Homo sapiens: one gene and its partners. The protein of the gene in region 1 interacts with the protein of each later gene in a pairwise test. Each region holds a gene or a part of one and is shown in the gene's direction. Other genes may lie near its edges.

Region 1 (3,937 bases):
TTTTGTAGTTTCTGGTTTATAGCAGTCTTCAAGTTTTCCATCTTCACTGTATGTTGCTGAAAGTGAGGATGAGGATACAGAGTTGATATTTTTAGAAACAGTAATTTTACTTTTAAGGAAATTGGCTAGCTCTTTGAGCTAGAGAGCTGTAGGAAGCTCAACATTTCTTTGTAGAGAACGTTGCTTTTTTTGGATTGTACAGGTATAAAAACATTGCTTTTGTTGAATTGTATAGGTGTAAAAAGGGAATAACTGTATGCAGGTTTGAAAAGGAAATGTGCTTTAGGCATGAGTCATAAGATGCCATTGTACTTGTAGGCATTTTATTTTCCTTTAGAAATGGACATCAGCTCTTCTCTTCTGACTGGTAACACATAGCCCCAAAGCATGAGATTATTTTTCATTGGGTTTTTATTGTTGTTTAGTTTTGGTTTGTTACGCCAGCCCAGTCTGTCTGCGGAACACTGACTCTGCTCTCTAATGAGAACAAAGTTAGAAATCTGCCGATAACCTAAAATAATTTAGAAATGAATTAAAAATGTGAAATCGGGTTAAAGTGATGATGATAAAATAGCATGCAAGAAACAAGCTCCTTCCATCAGACTTGGCTACTGTTTTCTTCTGGTACGATTTGGTTTGGAAGAGCCTCTTGTTTCCTTCTCTTTGGGGTATGTCTTCGTTTCTTAATATGTTTGTAACATTATTGAGATATAATTCACATACCTTACAATTCACTTATTTTAAGGGTACAATTTAGTGGTTTTTAGTGTATTCACAAAGTTGTGTAACCGTGACCACAGTCAATTTTAGAACATTTCGTTACCCCAAAAAGAAACCCTGTACCCTTGAGCAGTCACCTCTCATTTTCTCCCAGTGCCCACCCCATCCCCGAGCCCCTGGCAACCACTAATCTATTTCTCTCTCTGTAGATTTGCTTATTCTGGTCATTTCATATAAATGGAATTCTACAATATTCGGTCTTTTGGGACTGGCTTCCCAAATATGATTTTCTATATGGAGTGAGAAAATTCTTCTCATCTTGAGAACTCTTATTGCTGTGAAAGGGAGTGGTTGGTAAAATCAATAGATTTCAGGCAAGAGGGCCAGATACCTAACAGGTTTTTCTCCGTGAATCTTATGCTGAGTAGTTTTTCCTCATAACCAAGCATTTATGATATATTACTACTTATAATACTGTGGCTAGTCTCTAGAATGGATGTTGAAATCTTTGCCTCCTCAGTCGGGAAGAGTCCTGCTAAAAATCAGGCTAAAAATCAGGCCAAAAATCAGGCCAAATGACTTGGCAAATAATTGACAAAGTGGTTTTCACGTGTGTCTATCTTTGCTAGCAGCTTGTATACCTCAGGCCAGGTGAGCTCCCCAAATTTCTTTTTTCATTTACTCCAGTGAGTTTCTGCTGTCTTTTTCAAGTATGTACCATAGGACTTAAAGGTGATTTGGATGCGTTGTAACACTGCTAAATATGCTAAGTACAGAATTTTATCTACAGTACTGTGAGACAGTCAATTATTGCCTAGGGTAGTTCAAAAATATGATGTGAGCTAGTTAAGCCTTTGCTTGACTGATTTCAGTGATATTCAGAAGTGTGTACCAATCAAGGCTCTTTAAAATACGGAACGACTCACTTAATAACCAGGGAACCAGCCAAATACTGTGCAGCCGCAGAATATGCATATCAATGAGTTGGAGGTGATTATTCTCTGTAACTCCCTAATGATTGTTTTCTAAGCATTGTGGCTTCTCAGTGGCTTGACAGCATCTTCCTGGTTGTATGTGGCCTGTTTACATGATGTATTGAATAATGTTGTTTGTTGTGAGCATCAATGCCTGTAACACCAAACTAAACACGTGTTTTTGGGATATGTTTCCAATCTTTAAATGACCTTGCCCTGTCCAATAAATAAATGATTGTCTCACCCTGTTTTTGGTAGTGTTTTTTGGGCTTTTTTTTTTTGGACTTTTAATCTCATTTCTTCTGCTTTTCTGTCCCCAGAAAAATGTAAGAGCTAATTTTATGACTGTATTTTTCTACTGTGATGCTGTTTTACTGAATTCAATGGATAATTTAATTGTACATGTAAAATCTTACTGCAGTTTTATGTTTTTAATAGTCAAAATAGAATGTATAATCTTGATGATGTTTATAAATCATCAAATGCCCTTTGGGGTGTAAAAATGGGTTCTTGAGCAGCAGTGTCTAATGATTCCATCACAAATTTGTTATAAAGCCAAACTCCCATTGAAAGTGTCACTTTATACTTAATAGGAAATCGTTATGATTAAAGCATCAAGGAAGCAAATATAAAGTTTAATGAAAATCCAAGGGGAAGTTCTAAATTGCAAAACTTGGCACTTATCTACAGTATTTTGAAAAATAACACCACCGGTATTCAAACCTACCTAGGAATATCTCAAAATAACCTGTTAATTAAGTGTTCTTAGAAAGGGGAGTGGGGGCAAGAAAGATGATGTATGCACATGGCGAAAAGATCAGATGGTACAGAAAGGTATAAAAACTTGGTCCCTTCCCTCCTACCCTAATACTCCTCTCCAAAAGTAACCAGTTTCAAGTGTCTTGTACTCACAGGAAAACAATTTTTTATTTTTTATCAGCAAATTTGTACTTTAAAAATTTCACATTAATAGAATCAGACTATATATACTCTTCTGTACCTTGCTTTTTTTGCTACCTGTGTTTTATGAGATCTTTCTGTATCAGTATATATAAAAATACCTCATTATTTTTAGCGGCTGTGTGGTATTCTAATGTTTGAATGTGTTACAAATGTTCAAACACTGATAGGCTCTTTAGGTTGTTTCCAATATTAAATCACATTGTGGTGAATATACTTGTACATATAATGAGTTTTTATTCTACAGTGTACCTAGCAATACAATTGCTGGATCAGAGGGTATTTTTTATTTTCAGTTCAGTAGTTACTGCCAAATTGTCCTCTAGAAATCTTTGCCCAGTATGCTTCCACATATAATGTATGAGAATGATTATTTACCAAACCCATGCCAATACTGGGTACTAAACTTTTGAAGTCTGATCATGTGAAAGTGAATAAATGGTATCTTGCGTTTTAATGAAGTTCTAATGCATTTTAATGAAGGTCTGGTACATTTTAATGAAGGAGATGGAACACATTTTCATGTTTATTGATTACTGATATTTCCTGTGAAATGTGTAGTCATGTTCTGTTTTCTATTAGGTGGTATGTGTTTTATTGATTTGTATGAGCTTTTTGTAAGCTAAGAAAATTGGTCCATTGTCATGTTTAATAATATTTTCCTAAGTTTTATTTATGTAGTTAAACTTAGTCTTTACAGCTTCTGAGATTTTGCCTTGCTTAGAAAGGCCACCTTTGCATTTAAGAATAAATTTAATGTATTTTTCCAGTATTTTAAAGGTTTTTTTTTCAACTTTTAAATCTTTGATTCATTTGGAATTTGTCTAGGTAGTAAGAGTGAGGAGAGGATTCAACATTTTTCTCTCCAATAGCAATCTATTCTAACCCCATTTATTAACTTTTTCAACACTGATTGGAAAAACCATCATCCTCATTCATACATCAAATTTCCATATGTCTGGTTAGATATGCTTCTGGGTTCTGTAGTCTGTTGCAAAAAATACGAGTCTTTTAATTATTTTAAATTGTTATATATTTTTGTCTTGGGTATTGCTAGTCCATACCTCATTTTTAGGAATTTTTTCTAGTTACTGCATGTTTATTTTTTTCAGATAAGCTTTCATATCATTTTGTCCAAATCTAAAATTATATTTTCCCTGAAATTTAATTTTGAAAAATTTCAAATCTACAGAAAATGTGAAAGAAAATAGGATGGACACCAGTATACTTTTCATTTAGGTTCACCATTTTTAACATTTTACCACTGTTGCTTTTGCTCTCTC
Region 2 (7,036 bases), on another chromosome or scaffold:
GTAGAGGACATTTAGCTTCCTTGGTTGCAAGCCTAAATGCTACGAGCACCCCTAAACAGGGTAGGAAACCCCAGAGAAAAGCATGGCTGTAGCTATGGACCGAGGGTTGTGCCATCTGGCTTTTGCTTCAAACTCTGCCTTTGAGACTTCAGTCTCTTCATCTGTCCAACAAGGGAATGGAACAGGGCCATGAGCTTCCCTCTTAAGACCCCTCTCTAGAGTTCCCCTCTCCACAACCTCCATCTCCAGCTGCACCAAGAGAAGCCAGCCTGGCTGTCATCTATGCTGCCGCCACCACCACTGCCACCACCTCCTCCTCTTCCCCCTTCCCCTTATCTGTCACCTTCGGCTGAACCTTCAGTTCTGTTATTTTTCCCTCCTCAAAATCTCCAGTCCATTCTCTCCTCCATCTTCCTGTCACCACCTCTCACTGCTGAGAGAGCACCGTTGCTTCCCAGGTAGCCTCCGTGCCGCTCCTCTCTCAGAGCAGCCCAGTGATCCTTTCAAAGAGGAAAGCAATCAGGTCACTCTGCTGCTCCATTGCTCTTAGGGAAAGACCTTCACCAGGCTTGCCAGGCTCCGTGTGGTCAGGTCCCTGCCAGCCACTTCGCCCTCACTTTGTCCCTCGTTCCTCTGGCCTTTGAACAGACTGTTTCCTCTGCCTGCGTATTAACTTGTTTATTTGTTTATTATCTGTTGATCTGTATGCTCCATGAGGGCAGGGCCTGGGTCTGACTTGTATCACAGCACCTAAGTCTATGTCTGGCATCTAAAAGAGCCCTCAGCCAGGGGCGGTGGCTCACGCCTGTAATCCCAGCACTTTGGGAGGTTGGCGTGGGAAGATCTCTTGAGCCCAGGAGTTCCAGGCCCGCCTGGGCAACACAGGGAGACTCTGTCTGTATTCAAAAACTAAGGATAAATAAAAATAGTAATAAGTAAAAGAGCTTTGATGAACTCGGGATGATTGTGAGTGACCAGTGACCCTCCTTGATTAGCTTTATCCTGCGATCTCAGAGGGAGAGATCTGGGTACCCTGGGAGGTCAGGGCCATCAGTGTAGGTTTCGACAGCTTTAACTGGGGCAGGAGGAGAGTAGAGGAATTACAGGAGGCAGATGTAAGCATGAAGCTGGAAACCAGCCTGAGCCTCCCGCCAGTAATGGGGAGGGTATAGCCCAAGCAGGAGCTGGAGGGCTGGGAGTTCTGGGCTGAGAATGATCTTTGGGCCTCCACCTTGGGGAATGAAATTGAGCTTCTGTGAGGCCAGTCCCCAAGGTGATAGTGGCAGGTGGGACTCCAGTTTCCTAGAACAGGACAGGGAAGTTGAGCCTAGGGGGCATCAAGGTGAGAACTAGATGCCAAGGACAGCATTCAGAGTTTGGCCGGGGCCAGGTTTTCTCCAGCTGGTCTGAGTGCCTGTGTTACCAGGACACGTGTCTCTGCCAACCTTCTCTCTTCCCCTCCCACCCAGTGCATCGTGAGTGTTGCTGGTGGGGCCACTCGGGCTGCCCTGACCGTGCACCAGGCTCGGAGGAACAACATGGCTGACGTGTCAGCCAAGGACAGCAGCCAGGTGAGTGCCAGAGCTGGAGGGAGGGCGTGGAGTGGGGAGGGGAAGGGGAGAGAAGCCACTTGAGTGCCCTGGAGGGCCCAGGAACACACAGGAAGAAGTATGGGTGCTCCCTGCTGACTCAAGACACCCAGGCAGGAGTAGGGGTTTGGGCTCTGGTGGCGGCAAGTCCGAGCTGATCTCAGGCCCTGCCCGCCACCTGTGTGGCTGAGAGCAAGCCCTCAGCCTTGCCCTCTTCAGACCCCACCGTGCAAGCTGGATGTTCTGATCACATGAGGCCCCACATGTCAAGGCAATTGGCAAGTCAGAGTTACCCAGCATGTGGGGTTGCTGGGTCACTGGCTGGGGCCTCCACTCAGCAGTTTAGCAGGCCTGCTGGCCCAGCCCCCTTGCCCACCCTAGGGAGCCTGGAGTTGGGGTAGGGACACCCCTAAGGCTGAACTCCGCATGGATTAGACCTCTACAAACCCCGTGCTGAGTGCTTACGTGTACTGCATCACTTAACTCTCACGCCTGTCATCCTAGCACTTTGGGAGGCTGAGGTGGGAGGATCACTTGAGGCCAGGAGTTTGAAACCAGCCTGGGCAACCCGGCGAGACCCCATCTCTACATAATATATAAAAGAAACTTCAGCTAGGTGTGGTGGTGCACACCTGTAGTCCCAGCCTCGAGCTCAGGAGGTGGAGGCTGTGGTGAGCTAAGATCACCCCACTGCACTCCAGCCCAGGTGACAGAGCAAGACCCTGTCTCAAAAACAAACAAACTCTCACACCAACCCTTTGAGGTAGGTACTACTTTATCCCTAGTTTACAGATGAGGAAATTAAGGCCCAGGGAAGTCCCAGAAGTGTGAGATGGTTTTCTTTGACACTGAAGCAATTTAGAAACTGCTGTTCTGTGCATTCCTACTTTCTGGCCTTCTCTTCCATTGTTTGGCTCAATAATCTTAACCCAAGCTAATATTTATTAAGCACTAACCATGTGCCAAGTATTTTGGTTCTGGGAACTCTTTAAATTCTCACAGTGGGCATGTGCAGTAAATGCTCATGGTTGCCTTAGTACAGATGAAGAAATAAAGCATGGAGAGGTCCCATCTCCCTGGGGGCCCCTGGGGAAGTCCCTTCTCTCAGGATGCTCGGGCTTATTCCACCCATTGTCTCTTCTGAACCTAAGTCCACAGGCTGTTAAGGAGCAAGCAGGAAGCACAGCACAGGTCCCTCACCGCAGGACTCCCAGCTCCATGCCTGGTGTCCCTCTCCTGTTCTCTCGCTGGTCCCCAGACCTCCCCCTAACCCCAAGCCATTTTTCCCAAGACCCCAGGGCTTCCTCGGTCCACAGAGCCAGGGACATATCCGGGACTAACCTGGGAATGTGTCAGTCCCGCAGCAGACTCCAGCTTTCTGCCAGTGCAGCTTTGCTGTCACTGGATGTGGCCACTGGAAATGACTCTTCCCACCTGGGAGAGAGGAGCTCCTGAACTCCCCAGGTCCCTGATCCCCAGTTTCCTGCCACACCCACAGCGTTTATTCCCACAGCATATGCCCTTCCCAGGAGGGCTGGTTGAGAAGAGCTCTCCAGTCTCGGGTCCTCTCTATGCCAGGACCAGCTCTCCCTGGGAGCCCAGTAGTCAGGGGCACCAATCCAGACTCCTCCCTCATGATGAGTTGGGGGCAGGTAGCCTGGGGTCCCTTCCCCTAGAGTGATCTCAATCCAGCCATCAGAGTGTTCTCCTAACATTGATACACAAGGGAAGAGGTGTGGGTCTTGTTCCTTTTCTTCCCGGGTGGTTCCTTGACCCCTTTGCAAATCTATCTGCCAGTTACTGCATACCAAAGGAGCTTGGTGGGAGGGGAGCAGTCAACTTTTTAAAATCAGTAAATAAAAGTTATTCCAGCTCATGCCTGTTATCCCAGCACTTTGGGAAGCTGAGGTGGGGATTGCTTGAGCCCAGGAGTTCAAGATCAGCCTGGGCAATATAGCAAGACCCATCTTTACCAAAAAATGCAGTAATAATTAGCAGAGGCGTGGTGGTAGGATCACTTGAGCTCAGGAGTTTGAGGTGGCTGTGAGTTATGATTGCACCACTGCACTCCAGCCTGGGTGACAGAGCGAGACCCTCGCTCTTTAAAAAAAAAAAAAAGTACACATTAGTGAGTGCCTGAGTGTGGGTCTGTTCTGGTGACTTGCAAGACAAGATGTGTTCAAGGGTATTCCGAGGGCACCTACCTGGGCAAAAAAGCAACTGATACACATATGTATTTAGACAGGGTATCACTGTGTCTCCCAGGCTGGAGTACAGTGGTGCAATCATGGCTTAATTTTTTTTTTTTTCTTTTTTGGAGACAGTCTTGCTCTGTTGCCCAGGCTGGAGTGAAGTGGCGTGATCTCAGCTCACTGCAACCTCCACCTCCCAGGCTCAAGCAGTTCAGCCTCCTGAGTAGCTGGGAGTAGAGGCACGCGCCACCATACCTGGCTAGTTTTTTGTATTTTTACAAAAATGCAATGGGTCTCACCGTGTTGCCGAAGCTGGTCTTGAACTCCTGAGCTCAGGGAATCTGCCCACCTCGGCCTCCCAGATTGCTAGGATTACAGGCGCGAGCCACTATGCCCCACCAAATTTTTAATTTTTTTGTAGAAATAGGGTCCCACTATGTTGCCCAAGCTGGTCTCAAGCTCCTGGACTCAAGTGATCTGCCCACCTCAGCCTCCCAAAGTGCTGGTACTACAGGTGTGAGCCACCTCGAGCTGGCATCTTTTAAATGACATTTCACCCACCAAAAACTAAAAATTTACCCACATTGCAGTAAGGAGCCCTGGGAGGTTGTGGAGCAGGGAGGATGAGGTGAAAGGCACTCGGGCACTCAGTCTGGCCTGGAGGGGCACCTTCCAACTCCTTCTCCCTCTGCCATTTTCCAGGAGACGCTGGTGAACCTGGCGGGGCTCTTGGTCAGCCTCCTGATGCTCCCTCTGGTGTCAGGTTGCCCTGGGTAAGCCGGAAGCAGGGTGGGCAGGAGAACCCCAGCTGGGCCTCTGCCCACTTCAGCTACCTCACTCTCTCACCCCAGCTTCAGCCTTGGATGTTTCTTCTTCCTCACTGCCCTCCACATCTACGCCAACTACCGCGCGGTCCGAGCCCTGGTCATGGAGACCTTGAACGAAGGCCGGCTCCGGCTGGTCCTGAAGCACTACCTTCAGAGGGGAGAGGTACTCGACCCAACTGCAGCCAATCGCATGGAGCCGCTGTGGACAGGTGACCCTGCCCCTGGTCTCGGGTCCTGTGTCTCAACCTCTCCCACTGCCTAGGCATCCTGACCCCAGCTTCCCACAGGTTTCTGGCCAGCTCCGTCTCTATCCCTGGGGGTCCCCTTACACCGCTTGGTCTCCAGGTGAGTGGCCTAGCGTCTCCCGCTCGTCACCACCGCCACCCACACTCCCCTCACTCCGATTACACACTGGCCTCCCTGGCAAGGCCCCACCTCTCTGTCCTGGGTTCTTCATTGCTGCTGAACAGACATGGGGTTGGTGTGGGTGTGTGAGGAAGGAAAGGGTGTATAACATGAAGCAGATGTAAGAGATGTGCTTGATGGGTGAAGGAAGGATGGGTAGATGGGGAAGTTGGATGACTGGATACAGGAAGAAAGGATGGATTTGGTGTGTATGGGTAATGGCTGAGGGAGAGAGGAAGCGAGGGGACCTGAGTGAAGCCTGGATCATTTCAGTTCACTGGGTGGCTGTTCAGTGGCTGGTTGGGCATGCCTGCCTTTGCTGTCCTCCACCCCCACTGCACTGTCCTCTCCCCCACAGTGTCTTTGAGCTGCAGCAGCTGGTTGAGGGGCACCAAGAATCCTACCTCCTCTGCTGGGACCAGTCACAAAGTGAGTGTGCCTCATTCTCCCAGCCTAAGACGCACCCTCCCAGGTCAGCCTCTCATTCCTCCAACCTAGGGCCCCGAGCTCTGGGCAGTTTGGAGGCTGCCTGTTCTGGGGGTTGCTCTAGACCGTTCAAATTACAGCTGCAATGCCCCAGTGAAATTCATGTCACCGCTTTGTAAAACAGAGCTAACAGTACCTGCCTTATTCCTTGCGGTGTTTTTATGAGGATCAAATAATGTGACTGCAAAGCTACATTGCAGCACTCTTAGGAAGGCTATGACCTTTGCTGTCCGTGGGAAACCACCCTTCTCTCCATCCTGGGTTGCCTCTTGGGTAAACAAGTCCTTGAGTGTGCTGGTCCGCTGGTTGAGTGTGAAAAGGTGCTTATTCTCACTAGCCATTAAAGAAATGCAAAATAGACCCAGCCCAGTGAGCGGCTGGGAAATTGTATTTGGAAATTGGTCAGTTTGGCCCGAACATTGGGGAGCAACAGGAGATGAATTGGAAAGGAAAGGGTGAGGTGCTAGCCTTCCGTGCCAGGCCAAGGTCTTGGGGCAGACAGGGGAAGCAGGGTGATGGGATAGAAGGGGTTTGGGAGGTGGCCCTTCCCTGATACCAGTCTGTCTCTGGGTCCCTCCAGACCAGGTACAGGTAGTTCTGAACCAGAAGGCAGGCCCCAAGACCATCCTAAGGGCCGCCACACATGGGCTGATGCTTGGGGCCCTGCAGGGAGATGGACCCCTTCCAGCAGAGCTGGAGGAGCTGAGGAACCGGGTGCGGGCAGGTAAGTGCCTCAAGATTTAGACTGCTGATGCCTCAGGGTGGGGAGGAGAGAGGACAAACTCTGTCCTGCTGGAGGACACAGAGCTTCTGGTTCTGCACCCCCGTACCCAGGTCCTAAGAAAGAGAGCTGGGTCGTCGTCAAGGAGACACACGAAGTGTTGGACATGCTGTTCCCAAAGTTCTTGAAAGGTAACATCCCTCAGCCCATGGCTGCTTGGCCCCTGAAGCCTTGTCCCTGGGGGCCCCGCCTTCCCCCACTCCCACCCTTTCACCTGAAAGGTAAAAGACTTGGGTTCTTGGGCCTGGTGCAGAGGCTCACACCTATGATTCTAGTGCCTTGGGAGGCCTAAGTGGGCAGATTGCTTGAGACCCTGCCTGGGCAACATGGCAAATCCTTGTCTGTACAAAAAAAACACAAAAATTAGCCAGGTGTGGTTCTGCTCTTGTGGTTGCAGCTACTCAGGAGGCTGAGGTGGGAGGATCACCTGAACTGGGGGAGGTCGAGGCTACAGTGAGCCATGATTGTACCAGCCTGGGTGACAGAGCAAGACCCTCTCTCAAAAAAAAAAAAAAAAAAAAGACTGTCGGGCACAGTGGCTCACACCTGTAATCCCAGCACTTTGGGAGGCCAAGGCGGGCAGATACTTGAGCTCAGGAGTTCAAGGCCAGCCTGGGCAACATGGTGAAACCCTGTCTCTACCAAAAATATAAAAAAATTAGCTGTGCATGGTGATGCACGCCTGTGGGACTGTCAGGAGGCTGAGATGGGAGGATCACTTGAGCCTAGGAGGCAGAGGTTGCAGTGAGTCCAGAT
Region 3 (7,536 bases), on another chromosome or scaffold:
TATAATCCTGGGAAGGTGTGGGAGTTTTTTGCTGTATCTCAGCACTTGTCCATCCTATAGCCACCTCATCATAACTCCCCAAGGAGGACTACTTATTAATACCTCTGTATCTCTTGATACTGCATCATTTGTGTATTTGTGTTTGGGAGTGGACAGTATTATTTAAAATATTTTTTCTGGAATAGATAACTAATTGCCCCAAAATAATTTACTGAATAATCCATTATTCCTTCCTTAATTTGAAATGTTACCTTTATTATAAAATAAACGCTTGGATATGTATATACCAGATCCATGTCTGGAGTCTGCATTATTTTTTCATTGATCCATTTGTTGATTTCTGCATGTCAAGTGCCAAATGTTTTACATTATTATAGCTCTTTACAGTGTGTCTTGATATCTAGTAGGCCAATCTTATGAGGAAAAACAATGTTATTTTTGCTTTATTTTGCGTATCCCATAGGGCCATTAAGATTGAACCATCCTTTCATTTTGCTTGGTCTCAAGTTTTCTCTTTTGAGGATGCCCAATTCATATCCTTTAATCATTTGTCAATTACATATATTGGAGAATTCCTTCTTCCAGGTATTTCAACTTTATTTACAGTGTCATTCATATGAATGAAGCTTTTCATCTGGATGCAGTTAAATTTTCAATCTTTCCTTCTATGGCTTTTAATTTTAATAACTTGCTAAAAGGTTTCCTTCCCCTCCCTCAAAAGTTGTAAAACTATTCTCCCAGACTTTCTTCATTATTTTTCATATTTAGGTCACTAATCCATCTAGACAGGGGGATAAAAATGTCCAGGGATGAGATATTTCTCTGCCAATTCAGATGGGACAGCAGTGTAGGGTGCCTGGACCTTAGAGAATTCAGTCACCCCTGCCGTGTGTGAAGGGTGACTGTAATGAAGAAAGGAATGCCTTCTGAACATCCAGTTGACTGTAAGTTCTTCATGAATTTACATAAACTACTCACATCTGAACAAAGATCTTCTGGTACTGTCTTCTGGATTCCTTATCTGTGCGTGAGGGGCTAACAGTAAGATGTTTAGTGTTGAGCTGTTGGTGGCCAGGTACAGCCTCTAACTATAATCCCAGCACTTTGGGAGGCTGAGGTGGAAGGATTACTTAAGGCTGGGAGTTTGAGATCTGCCTGGGCAACATAGTGAAGCACCGTCTCTATTAAAAAAAAAAAAAATAGTGTGGAGTTGGAAGACATAGGACACTAAGTAACAGGCTGGGCTCCAAGCAGGGTTGTAGAAGACATGAAACTAAAACCTAGCTCCCTGTAGTCTGTTGACTGAAGCCATTTTGCCTCTCCAACATTTCTTGTAGCATGAATAATTTCTCCAATATCTCCCTCGTTGCAGATTTAATACCTAAATAGAAATACTGAAAAACGGCAGCCTAAAATTGGGGAAGTTCTTGAAACTTTTGGTAAGGTAGGCTGGGTATGGTGGCTCACACCTGTAATCTCAGCACTTGGGGAAGCCAAGGCAGGTGGATCACCTGAGGTCAGGAGTTTGAGACCAGCCTGGTCAACATGGCGAAACCCCATCTCTACTAAAAATACAAAAAATTAGCTGGGTGTGGTGGCATGTGACTGTAGTCCCAGCTACTAGAGAGAGTGTGGCAGGAGAATCACTTGAACCCAGAAGGCCAAGGTTGCAGTGAGCTGAGATTGCGCCATTGCACTACAATCTGAGCAATAGAGTGAGACTCTGTCTCAAAAAAAAAAAAAAGTTTTGGTATGGTAAAGGCTTGATCAGAACTGTACTTGAAAAAGATGATCCTGTTATTTGTCAGACAGATTCAATAAAGGGACTGCATGTGGGCTGAAGTGGCAGGAAGTAGGAAGGAGTGACTGACTCATGAGACAGTGGAGATGAAGCCATGATTTAATCTAGAAGGATTAGATATTGTATTACCCAATCAGTAGAACTCTTGACAGCTGATTAGTCTGCAATCTTTATATGATATGGGGGAAGTCAAAGCAAGGAATCTGGGTACAAGGTAGAAAGAAAGTGCTGTTCACATAGAGTAGGCCGGGCGAGGTGGCTCATACTTGTAATCCCAACACTTTGGGAGGCCGAGGCAGGCAGATCACCTGAGGTCAGGAGTTCGAGACCAGCCTGGCCAACATGGTGAAACCCCGTCTCCACAATTAGCCAAGCGTGGTGGTGCACACCTGTAATCCAAGCTACTCAGGAGGCTGAGACAGGGGAATCACTTGAAGTGGGGAGGCAGAGGTTGCAGTGAGCCGAGATCGCAACACTGCACTCCAGCCTGGGCAACAAGAGCAAAACTCCATCTCAAAAAAAAAAAAAAAAAAAAAAAAAACCACAGACAGGGTAGCCTTGGTGAGGATGGACTCTGTGGATAATGATAATGGACTTCTTGTCTTTGAGGTGTGAGTAATCTTTGGTAAAGGTGACCAACTGGGAAGAGGTGAGGGCTGAAGAGATTATTTTAGTCAGCTGAAGGTGAAAATTGAATCTGATAGGTACTGAAAACACAAAGAAGATAATAAGCAAAACTTATTCTAGGAGAGAAGAAAGAAAAGGAAAGCTGAGAAAACAAGGAGTTATTCAGAAGGAGGAGAAGAATAAAGAGGGTGGTGTGATCAAGGATGATAAGGACTAAGAAAACACCAATTGTTACAATTGTTACTGTTAATCTTGATATTCAAGAGCACTGTGGTCTACCTGGGAAATGGATTTCCTCACATATTCTGAAATTCATTCTTTAAGACTTTATATCCCAAGATACTCACGTAAAAAATGAGGAAAGAGAACCTTGGTTGGTTCCAGAGTGCCCTCTCTGGAACTGGAACACTCAGCTGCCAATTGTTTTCCAGTATTCCTCACCCACTTGGGCATGACAGGACCCTGTGCTGTTTCTTCTTCTTTGAAATAAGGACAATAGTTTACTGCCTAGGATTGTTTTAAGAATTAAATTAGTTAATTATTGTATAGTACTTAGAACAATGCCTTGAACATAGTAGGTGTTCAATAAATACCAGCTACAGTATAGTAACTTTTTTTTTTTTTTTTTGACGGAGTCTCACTCTATAGCCCAAGCTGAAGTGCAGTGATTGGATCTCGGCTCACTGCAACCTCCGCCTCCGGTGCTCAAGCAATTCTCGTGCCTCAGCCTCCCAAGTAGTTGGGACTATAGACACGCGCCACCACCCCCAGCTAATTTTTTGTATTTTAGTAGAGACAGGGTTTCACCATGTTCTCCAGGGTGGTCTCGAACTCCTGAGCGATCCACCCACCTCGGCCTCCAAAAGTGCCAGGATTATAGGCTTGAGCCACTGCGCTTGGCCAGTAACCCATTTTTAAGGCCCAGGTGAAATAGTTTTTCTATTTCTATGATTTTCTATTTCTATGATTAAATAGTGTTTAATCAGACACTTCAGCTGCATATACCTCCCACAGCTCATTGATGATACAACAGTTCGCACAGGGCCTGGCACACATGCTAAAGGCTCAGCAGTATTGATAATCACCCACACTTACAAAGCACTATGGGCCAGACACTGCTGTGCTTTCTTTACAGATATCAACTCATTTAACCCACCCTAAAAACCCTGAGGTTCCCAAAACTGGCATATCCTCATGTTACAGATACAGAAACTAAGACACAGCCGGGCTAAGTAATTAATCTAAGCTTACACAAATAGCCGAGACAGAGCCAGGACTTAAATCCAGGCAGCCTGTTTCACAGTCCCTGCTCATAACCATGGTGCTGTATAGTTCCAAACATCTTAACTAATGAGGACAGCATTATTTCTCAAGGTGCACAGCACAGAGAACTTCAAAAATTAGACTCTTAGTAAAACACCATCTTTTTTTTTTTTTTTTGAGACAGGGTCTTGCTGTGTTGCCCAGGCTGGAGTGCAGTGGCGTGATCTGGGCCCACTGCAACCTGCACCTCTCAGGTTCAAGAGAGTCTTGTCTCAGCCTCTGGAGTTGCTGGGACTACAGGCAGGCACCACCGCGCCCAGCAAATTTTTTGTATTTTTAGTACAGACGGGGTTTCACCATGTTGACCACGCTGGTCTCAAACTCCTGACCTCAAGTGATCTGCCCGACTCGGCCTCCCAAATTGCTGGAATTTATTCCAACACCTCATTCATTCATTCATTCATTCGAGACAGAGTCTAGCTATGTTACCCGGGCTGGTCTCAAACTCCTGGGCTCAAGGGATCTTTCTACCTCAGCCTCCCAACGTGCTGAGATTACAGGGACACGCCACCGCGCCAGCCCGAACATCTTTATCTTAAACCCAGAAAAGTGACAGGAGTGTCTCCCCTACAAGATGATGACCAGCCCTCCAGACCTGAGCCCAGGTGTGATTCCAAGGCCCCTGTACTGGGGCCAGACAGGGAGACTCGCTCTCAGGGACTTCCCAACCAGCACCATCTTCTCCCTGCGGGGATGGCGAGGGAGCGCGGGCCGGCCCCGGCCCTGCCTCCGCGCTCGCGCTCGACGGTGTCCTGAAGCGCGCTCCCGGGGAGGTGTTGCAGCCATGGCTACGGCAGCCGGCGCGACCTACTTTCAGCGAGGCAGTCTGTTCTGGTTCACAGTCATCACCCTCAGCTTTGGCTACTACACAGTAAGGACAGCCGCTGGAGCGCTACGGTCTGACGAACGAGCGAGCGCTCGGTTCACCCCAGGACCTGGGCTCACAGGCCGCGGGCCGGGGGAAGTCGTGCAAGCACAATCCCGACTCCCGCGCGCTAGGAGCGGAGGGGAGGGGACCAGACTCCGCAATGAGAGCAAGCATACTGGTCCGCCAGGGTCTTGGGCGGGCGCCCAGGGCCCTGAGAAACCGGCTAGCCAGGCTTTTCTTATATGGGGGCGGGGACGGCTGGGGAGCTCCCAGCCAACTCTGTGTCTGGGTTTTTCAAGAGGATGGTGAAGTCGGAGGCCAGCAATGCGGCTACCGCCTATTTCCGTCCAGCAAGACCCTTGCCCTCTCTGGTCACAGTCCTGGGGCTGGGCTACTTCGCGGTGAGGCGTGGGGTGGGGCGGGGCGGGCCTCTGTTTTGGCCCGCCGGGCCCTCGTAGGGCGAGGGGAGCTCTGGGAACGGGGCCTGTGCGCACGCGCATCTGACGGTTGTCTCGGTTACTCATGTAAGCGGAAATTCGGTGGGCTCTTAGGATAGTTTCTGCTTTCTAGTGTTCCTGTCTTTGGGTCCTCACCTCTGCATGGTTACTAACGGGTTATCCGAGCCTAAGCCTCTCACGAAGCGGAAAGTCAAGTTAACAGACTGCCATAGGCCTGCCAAGTCAGAATAGGGCTTCCGAAGCAGAATGTTTGAGCCAATAGGAATTGTTTGGAAAACGGGGATAAATCTAAAGGATGGGTAGGATTTAAGTGGTAAGGGAGGATAAAGAGGCTATAACTGTTCTGACATAGGTGTGGAAGCAAGAAGAAAGCTGTACCTAGAAAAAGAGCGACGTTTGTTTGGCTGAGAAATAATCTGTTTAAAGGATAACGAGAAAGATGCGTGGAAAAGTAGGTTGGGGGCTAAGGTGGTAGTTTTGTGTTTTTTTGAGACGGAGTCTCGCTCTGTCACCCAGGCTGGAGTGCAGTGGGGCGATCTCGGCTCACTGCAACCTCTGCTTCCCAGGTTCAAGCGATTCTCATGTCTTTACCTGTAGCTGGGATTACACTATGCCCAGCTATTTTTTTGTGTTTTTAGTAGACATGGGTATTGGTGAGGCTGGCCTCGAACTCCTAACGTCAAGTGATAAGGTGGTAAAATTTTGAAGGAAGGCGAAGCTATTTGGGTATACCAATAGATCCTGGAGATTGGAGATTTGTCTTGTCCACAGTGTTGTTTGTTGGTGTCAAATCTGACAACCTATGTCCTGATTTCCCCATATGTACAATGGAGGTGTTGAACTGAAAATTTTCAAAGGTGCATTTCTGTTCTACGATTTAGTGTCTGTGACTAGTTAGAATATAGTTGGAGGAAAGCTTTGGGGACTTCAAATTGGGATCTTGTGGAGCTGGCAGATGCTCCCCTTTCCCTTTGGTTTGGGAGGATGCAGTGATATTTGTGCATTATTTAACTTTCAGATGTGAAACAACATCGTGAGAGAGGTAGTACTGCTCTTGACAAAGATTTGAATGGGACAATACATTTTGAAACTGTTGAGTTATTCTCAGAAAAGTCTTAGCTGACAGAAGTTACAATACAGAGGCTGAAAGTTAAGATTACGAAAAATTTATGTGATTAAGCAGTTGCTATTAAAATGTCACAACCTTATCTCACTTATTTTCCATCTCTATGCAGTGGATCATTCTCAGTTTTAGCCGTACAAAAAGGGAAAGCCGAGAAAGGAATTCTAAATTAAACAGAGGTTTGGCTGGAGCCAGTTTCTGCAGTAAAGAAACTAGCCAAAGCACATAAACTCAAAATTTGCTAATATCTTTTATAAAATAATGGTTTTGGTGGAATGTATTAATAGGAGTCAGCCAGGCATGGTGGTTCACCCCTGTAATCCCAGCACTTTGGGAGGCCGAGGCGGGCAAATCGCTTGAGCCCAGGAGTTCGAGACCATCCTGGGCAACATGGCAAAACCTCATCTCTACACACACACACACACACAAAATTAGCCATGGGCAGTGGCTCACACCTGTAATCCCAGCACTTTGAGAAGCCGAGAAGGGCGGATCACCTGATGTCAGGAGTTGGAGATCAGCCTGGCCAACATGGTGAAACTCTGTCTGTATTAAAAATACAAAAATTAGCTGGGCGTGGTGGCATGCACCTGTAGTCCCAGCTACTCTGGAGGCTGAGACAGGAGAGTCGTTTGAATCCGCGAGGCGGAGGTTACAGAGAGCCGAGATCGTGCCACTGCACTCCAGCCTAAGCGACAGAGTGAAACTCCATCTAAAATAAATAAATAAATAAATAAATTAGTCAGTCGTGGTAGCCATGCCTGTATTCCAGCTACTTGGGGAAGCTGAGTTGGGAGGATCGCTTGAGCCCGGGAAGTCAAGGGTGCAGTGAGCCGTGATCAGGCCACTGCACTCAAGCCTGGGTGACAAAGCGAGATCCCTTCTCTACAAAGAAAACAAAAGAAGAAAAGGAAGAAAAAAAGACTTTAAGAGTCATCCACCGTGGGCACTGAGTCTGATAACCACATACTTTCCTCAGCATAAGTCTCCCAGTAGAGTTGCTTTTAGAAAATAGAAGTCATCCTGGCACAGTAGGTCATGCCTGTAATCCCAGCACTTTGGGAGGCCAAGATTGGAGAATTGCTTGAGCCCTGGAGTTGGAAACCATCCTGGGCAACATAGTGAGACCCCATCTCTATATACAATTTTTAAAAGTAGCTGGGCATGGTGGCACACACGTGTAGTCCCATCTACTTGGGAGGCTGAGGTGGGAGGATGGATTGAGCCCAGATGGTGGAGGCTGCAGTGAGTCATGATCATGCCACTGCACTCCAGCCCCAGCAGCGGAGTGAGACCCTGTCAAAAAAAAAAGAAAGAAAGAAAATAGAAGCCAAGA
Region 4 (5,751 bases), on another chromosome or scaffold:
CCAGGCTAGGGAGGGCTGCAGAGTGCTTTCCTCTGTGGACGGGTCTTGTGCTGAGCCGCCACCCTGCTTGTAGTTCCCTTGACTCAGCTGTTGCCATAGTACAAGCTCATCTGTTCTCCCCTTAGCTCCTGAGCATTCACTGCACACGTTCTTTGCAGGCTCCGCTGGAAGCATGTCCCTCTGACTGTATGGCCTTCTGTCTATCCCTGCTAGATGGTGACCACAGCCCTGGCAACCATGAGCAGTCCTACGTGGGGAAGCGGTCAAACCGGGTGGTGCGAACCCTCCAGAACAGTAAGTGGAGGATGTGGCTGGCCTGGGCACCTAGGTGCTGTCTGCCTGGGCTTGAGGGACTGGCTTTGGTCAGCAGCCACCTTCCCCTGCCCCAGCCTGGGCCTGGCTCGCTCATCTGCCGCCCTTGTGTTCTAGCGCCGTCCCTGCACTCCAGGCACTGGGGAGCTCCCCAGCAGCGGGAGGGACGGCAGCAGCAGCATCACGAGGAGCTGAGTGCGACCCCCACCCCCCTGGGGCTGCAGGAGACCATCGCAGAGTTTTTGTACATTGCCCGGCCGCTGCTGCACTGTATCCTTAGCGCGGGGCAGGATAGGGCTGGCACTGTGGGCTGGGGATTGAGTGGGGAGTGTGCTGAGCAAGGCCCCTGTGCTGGAGACATCCTTGACGCCTTGGCCGTCAGTGCTCAGCCTGGGCCTGTGGGGTCAGAGGTCGTGGAAACCCTGGCTCTTGGCTGGTGTTGTGGACGTGACCAGGTGAGCCTGGGCCTGCCTGGGGCTTCACTCTCCACTGGGCTTTCTGCTATAATCCTGGCCTCACATAGGCGGGGTGGCAGCGGCCCCTGCTCCTCCTGTTGCTGCCCCTCTGGACACCCAGCCCATGGCTCCTCCCCTTCCGTGGGCCTAGATCATGCCCCTGGCCCTGACCATGTCCTCCCTGCCTCCCAGCCTGAGCCTCCTGAGTGACAGAAAGGGCCTGACCCGGAGGGAGCGGCGGGAGCTGCGGCGCCGGACCATCCTGCTGCTCTACTACCTGCTGCGCTCTCCTTTCTATGACCGCTTCTCCGAGTAAGCACCCAGGACACCCTGAGCCAGGGAGAGGGCTGGCAAGCGGGCACTGGTGCTCCGGTCCCTGCTGGCGCCTTCCCTTCCCCACGCCTCATCCAGGGTTCACCAAGCACTGTGTGTTGTCCGGGTGGCAGTCACCAGATGCCAGCCCAGTCCCGCCCGCAGAGCTCTCTGGGCCATCAGGCCACTTGAGCAGGAACTTAAACATTGGTTGGCAGGAGAGGCACTGAGGGCAGGGCTGAGGGCATTGCCAGGTGGCCCACAGGGATGGCGACAGGGCGGGCGCCCATGGCCTCTAGCTCATTTCCACTTCTTCCTGCCAAATAGTTTGGCTTATCCTCACTTCTCAGAGGAGGACCTGGAGGTTCAAGGAGGTTGGGCAACTTAAAGACACCCAGCTAGCCAGTGGTAGAGCTAGATCCCAAACCCAGGATCTCCCCTGGCCTTCCCTGCCTGGCCCAGCCCCCACTCAGTCACCTGCGAGGGTCCAGAGCTCCCAGCCTGAGAGAGGCCTGCTGGGTTGAGCAGGGGGCAGCTTGGGACTAGTTCTTCCACAGGCCTGCCACTATGACTGCTTGAGGTTAGACCACAGTCTGACAGGGGGAAACCCTGTGCAGTGGCTGGGACTGTGAGGCAGACAAGGCTCCCGGGACCCCCTTTGTCTAGGACCTAATAATAGCTTAAAAACTGGCATAGGCTGGGCAGCAGTGGCTCACACCTATAATCCTAGCACTTTAGGAGGCCAAGGCAGGAGGTTGGCTTGAGGCCAGGAGTTCGAGACCAGCCTGGGCAACCCAATTCTACAAAAAAAAAAAAAAAATAATAATAATTAGCCAGACATGGTGGTGTGCGCCTGTAAGTCCTAGCTACTCAGGAAGCTGAGGCATGAGGATCAGGCCAGGAGGCTGAGGCTGCAGTGAGTTATGATCACTCCATCCCACTCTAGCCTGGGTGACAGAGTAAGTCCCTGTCTCAAAAAAACAAAACAGAAAAAAAAAAACAAAACTGGCATAGTTTAGCCAGGCACGATGCCTCACACCTGTAATCCCAACACTTTGGGAGGCCGAGGCGGGCGGATCACAAGGTCGGGAGGTAGAGACCATCCTGGCTAACATGGTGAAACCCTGTCTTTACTAAAAATACAAAAATTAGCCAGGTGTGATGGCACACGCCTGTAGTCCCAGCTATTCAGGAGGCTGAGGCAGGAGAATCGCTTGAACCCAGGAGGCAGAGGTTGCAGTGAGTCGAGATCGCGCGACTGCACTCCAGTCTGGGTGACAGAGCGAGACACTGTCTTTTTTTGTTTGTTTGTTTTTGAGATGGAGTCTGGCTCTGTTGCCTGCCTAGGCTGGAGTGTAGTGGTGCAATCTTGGCTCACTGCAAGCTCTGCCTCCCGGGTTCATGCCATTCTCCTGTCTCAACTCCTGAGTAGCTGGGACTATAGGCGCCCATTACCATGCCTGGCTAATTTTTTTTGATTTTTTAGTAGAGATGGGGTTTCACCGTGTTAACCAGGATGGTCTCGATCTCCTGACCTCGTGATCCGCCTGCCTCGGCCTCCCAAAGTTCTGGGATTACAGGCGTGAGCCACCGCGCCTGGCCTGACCCATCTTTTTTTTAAAACAGAAAAAAGAGTAAGGCTGCTCCTTCTGGACCACACCCTGGCACCTCTCTGGACCCTGCTCCCTGTCCTTTAGGGAAACAAAGGCCCGCCTTGGCCTCCTAAAGTGCTGGGATTATAGGTGGAGCCACTGCACCCAGCCAGCCTTCTTCTTTTCTTTTCTTTTGTTTTTTGGGACGGAGTTTCACTCACGTTGCCCAGGCTGGAGTGCAATGGCGTGATCTCGGCTCACCGCAACCTCTGCCTCCCGGGTTCAAGCAATTCTCCTGCCTCAGCTTCCCAAGTAGCTGGGATTACAGGTGCGCGCCACCACGCCCGGCTAATTTTGTATTTTTTAGTAGAGATGGGGTTTCTCCATGTTGGTCAGGCTCGTCTCGAACTCCTGACCACAATTGATCTGCCCGCCTTGGCCTCCCAAAGCGCTGGGATTATAGGCATGAGCCACCACACCCGGCCCCCAGGCTTCCTCTTTTCTTGCTGCTCAGACAGACATATAAGGAGTCAGGCCGCCTTCCAGATGTGTAGCCTTGGGCAAGTTATTTGATGCGCCTGTGCCTCATTTCCTCACCTGTAAGATGGGGATGATGACAGTACCCACTTTGTAGGGGTTCAGTGACTAACGCGTACAGCAGTGCGTGGGGTGTAGTAAGCACGTAGCGCTATGTATTGTCATCAGCATCCTCATCTCACCCGAGTTCCCCTGTGGAAAACCCTCCTGTCTTAAAAATCAGGGCCTTGGGCCTTGCCCCTTCCCCTGAACCAAAATGTGCCCTCTTCAGTACTGTGTCCCCTACCAAGGTCCTGACTACTCTCATTGGTGGCTTGTGAGGTTTCCATGCAGCCCAGCACTTCTGCCAGACTGGGGGGCTTCCCGAGGGCAGGGTGGGGTTGTCCTCCCTGGACCCTCCACCATACTGCCAGGGCGCTGCTCCACATGCGACCCTCTAGAGGCCTTCAGTGTTGGATGTCGGTGGAAGGGGAAAGAGGAATGGGAGGAGGTGTTGTGGGTCAGCGGCCACCCCGAAGCTGAGCTGGTGGAGGGTGGAGGCCAGAGCCAACCCCAGAGGTCTTGCCCTTGTGTACCGGGCTTTGTCCTAGCTCCCAAGAAAGTCACCTTTGTTTTCTGGAATGCGCTGCATTCGGCACGGTGGTCAGTGAAGGCCTCTGGGCCTCCTGGTTTGCAGGGACCCACCCCCACCCCACTCAGCTTGCTCCCCATTTATTGCCTCCCCCAGGGCCAGGATCCTCTTCCTGCTCCAGTTGCTGGCCGACCACGTCCCTGGCGTTGGCCTGGTCACAAGTAAGCAGGGATGGGGACGCGATGACTGTAGTGCTGGAAGGCGCATGCATGCAAGCACCTCCCTGACTCCTCTGTCTCCTTGCAATTTGATTCTTGGCACAGTCAGGAGAGGAAGTCGGGAAGTCAGGATTGGGTGGGACTGCCCCTGGGCATAGGCCAGGGTGGCCTGAGGAGCCAGGGATGGCTGGAAGGAGGGTGTCCACTGGTGGGGGGACCACATCAGCTGCCAGCTTTTTTCTGGTCACAGTATCCTGGAGCGATACGGGACCATCTCATCTTGGGGGGATTCAATGGCAGAGAAGGGGTCCACCGGGCTGCTGAGATCCTCCCTCAGCAGAGGCCCACTGGGCTTGGGTTGGGTGACTGGACCTGACTCAGGCCCCTCAGTGTCTACCCTGGCTGAGCTTCTCTGGGCCTGAGGGTCTTTGTAAATGGTGCCAGAGTCCCCTGCAGTGCTGCCTCCTGGGGGCAGGGCAAGACAGCCAGCTGGGCTGGCTCCTGGGCCGCAGGGGTGAGGTGCTGTATGTGGCGCCACAGTGCAGATTGGGGTCTGGCCTGCCCTGATGTGTCCCTCTCCCACTGCAGGGCCGCTCATGGATTACTTGCCCACCTGGCAGAAAATCTACTTCTACAGTTGGGGCTGACAGACCTCCCGGAAGGAGGGTGTGGGGAGGGGTGGGGCAGGGAGCCCCTCTTCCCTAATAAAACTGACTCCGGCAGCGTCCCAGCGTGCGGCCTCTCCGTGCCTACCGGCCAGGCCCCACACACAGCCCTGGTCGCCACCAGCGTTCCTCCCAGGACACCCTTGACTGCGCTCTCCTGTGACGATGCCACTGCAGCCCGCACCTTGTCACTGCTGGGCCAAGAAGCCTTCACTAGGAGTGGGATCCAGGCTCCTCTCCCACAGAAAGCGGTGACTTCACCTCATGGAGCCCGGGAAGCTGCTCGCCTCGGCAGCCATAGGAGCGAACACTGCTGCTCTCTCGCTGGCCCCTGGTGAGGACAGGAAGCCTGAACCCGGGTGATGGCTGAACGCTGCCCAGCGTGTCTTCTGGCTGGGGCCCTCCGTCTGCCCCTTCTCCGCAGGGCCCTGTGGCTCTGGCAGCCCCAGGCCATGGCGTTGCCAGCCTCCCTGTGACAGAGCCTGGTGAACAGTGAGCCTGGCTCCCACGCAAGTGGCACTTTAAGCCCTGCATCCTCGGTTGAGAGTAAAAGGCTTTTCTCCCTTAGAAAAAGGACATCGGGCACTGGCCAGCACTGGGGAGGGAGTGGGAGCTGGACAGGCTCGGGGAGGAAGCCGGGGCCAGTTCAGGGGGTATGAGCTGGGGTTTCCCCATGCTTGCCCTGCAGGCTCCAGAGGCCGGGTCCACCTGGAGCCATGCAAGCTGCTATGGGGGAGGGCCTGGACAGGGTGGGCCGCAGGCTGGTCGTCTTCTCCCTGAACTTAGCCTGTCCTCAGCCACTGGCCCTGTGAAGAGCCAGCCTCTCATGCTAGAGTTTCAAACCCACAGAGAGGGCTCCATCTACACCTTGGTCCTCCATGCCTCAGCTCCTCCAAGACACACTGCTTTCCCCAGGGCCCTCTGAGGAGCGCCCCCCAGGTCCTCACCCACAGGCAGGGGAAGGGGCTGCCTGGGCTCCCATGGCCTCCAGCTTAGTGGAACAGGCGTTTCTGGGCACATGCCTGGCCATCAGAAACCAGCAGTGAAGCACAGTCCCCTGCCCTCCGCCTCTCACCAACGGAGGAAACA

The links.
Region 2: the proteins of MMGT1 (region 1) and RUSF1 interact in binary tests that used the Homo sapiens proteins (3 or more experiments, as listed by UniProt).
Region 3: the proteins of MMGT1 (region 1) and TMEM254 interact in binary tests that used the Homo sapiens proteins (3 or more experiments, as listed by UniProt).
Region 4: the proteins of MMGT1 (region 1) and PEX16 interact in binary tests that used the Homo sapiens proteins (3 or more experiments, as listed by UniProt).

The regions. Positions count from the first base shown.
Region 1 is NC_000023.11:135,960,077-135,964,013, reverse strand, and holds the end of MMGT1 (ER membrane protein complex subunit 5), read left to right. Parts: 3' UTR 1-3,426; downstream 3,427-3,937. UniProt on the Homo sapiens protein: Part of the endoplasmic reticulum membrane protein complex (EMC) that enables the energy-independent insertion into endoplasmic reticulum membranes of newly synthesized membrane proteins.
Region 2 is NC_000016.10:31,491,384-31,498,419, reverse strand, and holds part of RUSF1 (RUS family member 1), read left to right. Parts: intron 1-1,469; coding exon 1,470-1,571; intron 1,572-4,483; coding exon 4,484-4,554; intron 4,555-4,632; coding exon 4,633-4,817; intron 4,818-4,895; coding exon 4,896-4,953; intron 4,954-5,371; coding exon 5,372-5,442; intron 5,443-6,079; coding exon 6,080-6,223; intron 6,224-6,333; coding exon 6,334-6,411; intron 6,412-7,036.
Region 3 is NC_000010.11:80,074,165-80,081,700, forward strand, and holds the start of TMEM254 (transmembrane protein 254), read left to right. Parts: upstream 1-4,500; 5' UTR 4,501-4,535; coding exon 4,536-4,622; exon of another isoform or gene 4,623-4,861; coding exon of another isoform or gene 4,862-5,020; exon of another isoform or gene 5,021-5,029; intron 5,030-5,080; exon of another isoform or gene 5,081-5,516; coding exon of another isoform or gene 5,517-5,528; intron 5,529-7,475; coding exon of another isoform or gene 7,476-7,536.
Region 4 is NC_000011.10:45,909,147-45,914,897, reverse strand, and holds the end of PEX16 (peroxisomal biogenesis factor 16), read left to right. Parts: intron 1-213; coding exon 214-294; intron 295-429; coding exon 430-582; intron 583-694; coding exon 695-767; intron 768-959; coding exon 960-1,079; intron 1,080-3,935; coding exon 3,936-4,000; intron 4,001-4,585; coding exon 4,586-4,644; 3' UTR 4,645-4,720; coding exon of another isoform or gene 4,721-4,809; 3' UTR 4,810-5,235; downstream 5,236-5,751. UniProt on the Homo sapiens protein: Required for peroxisome membrane biogenesis. May play a role in early stages of peroxisome assembly. Can recruit other peroxisomal proteins, such as PEX3 and PMP34, to de novo peroxisomes derived from the endoplasmic reticulum (ER).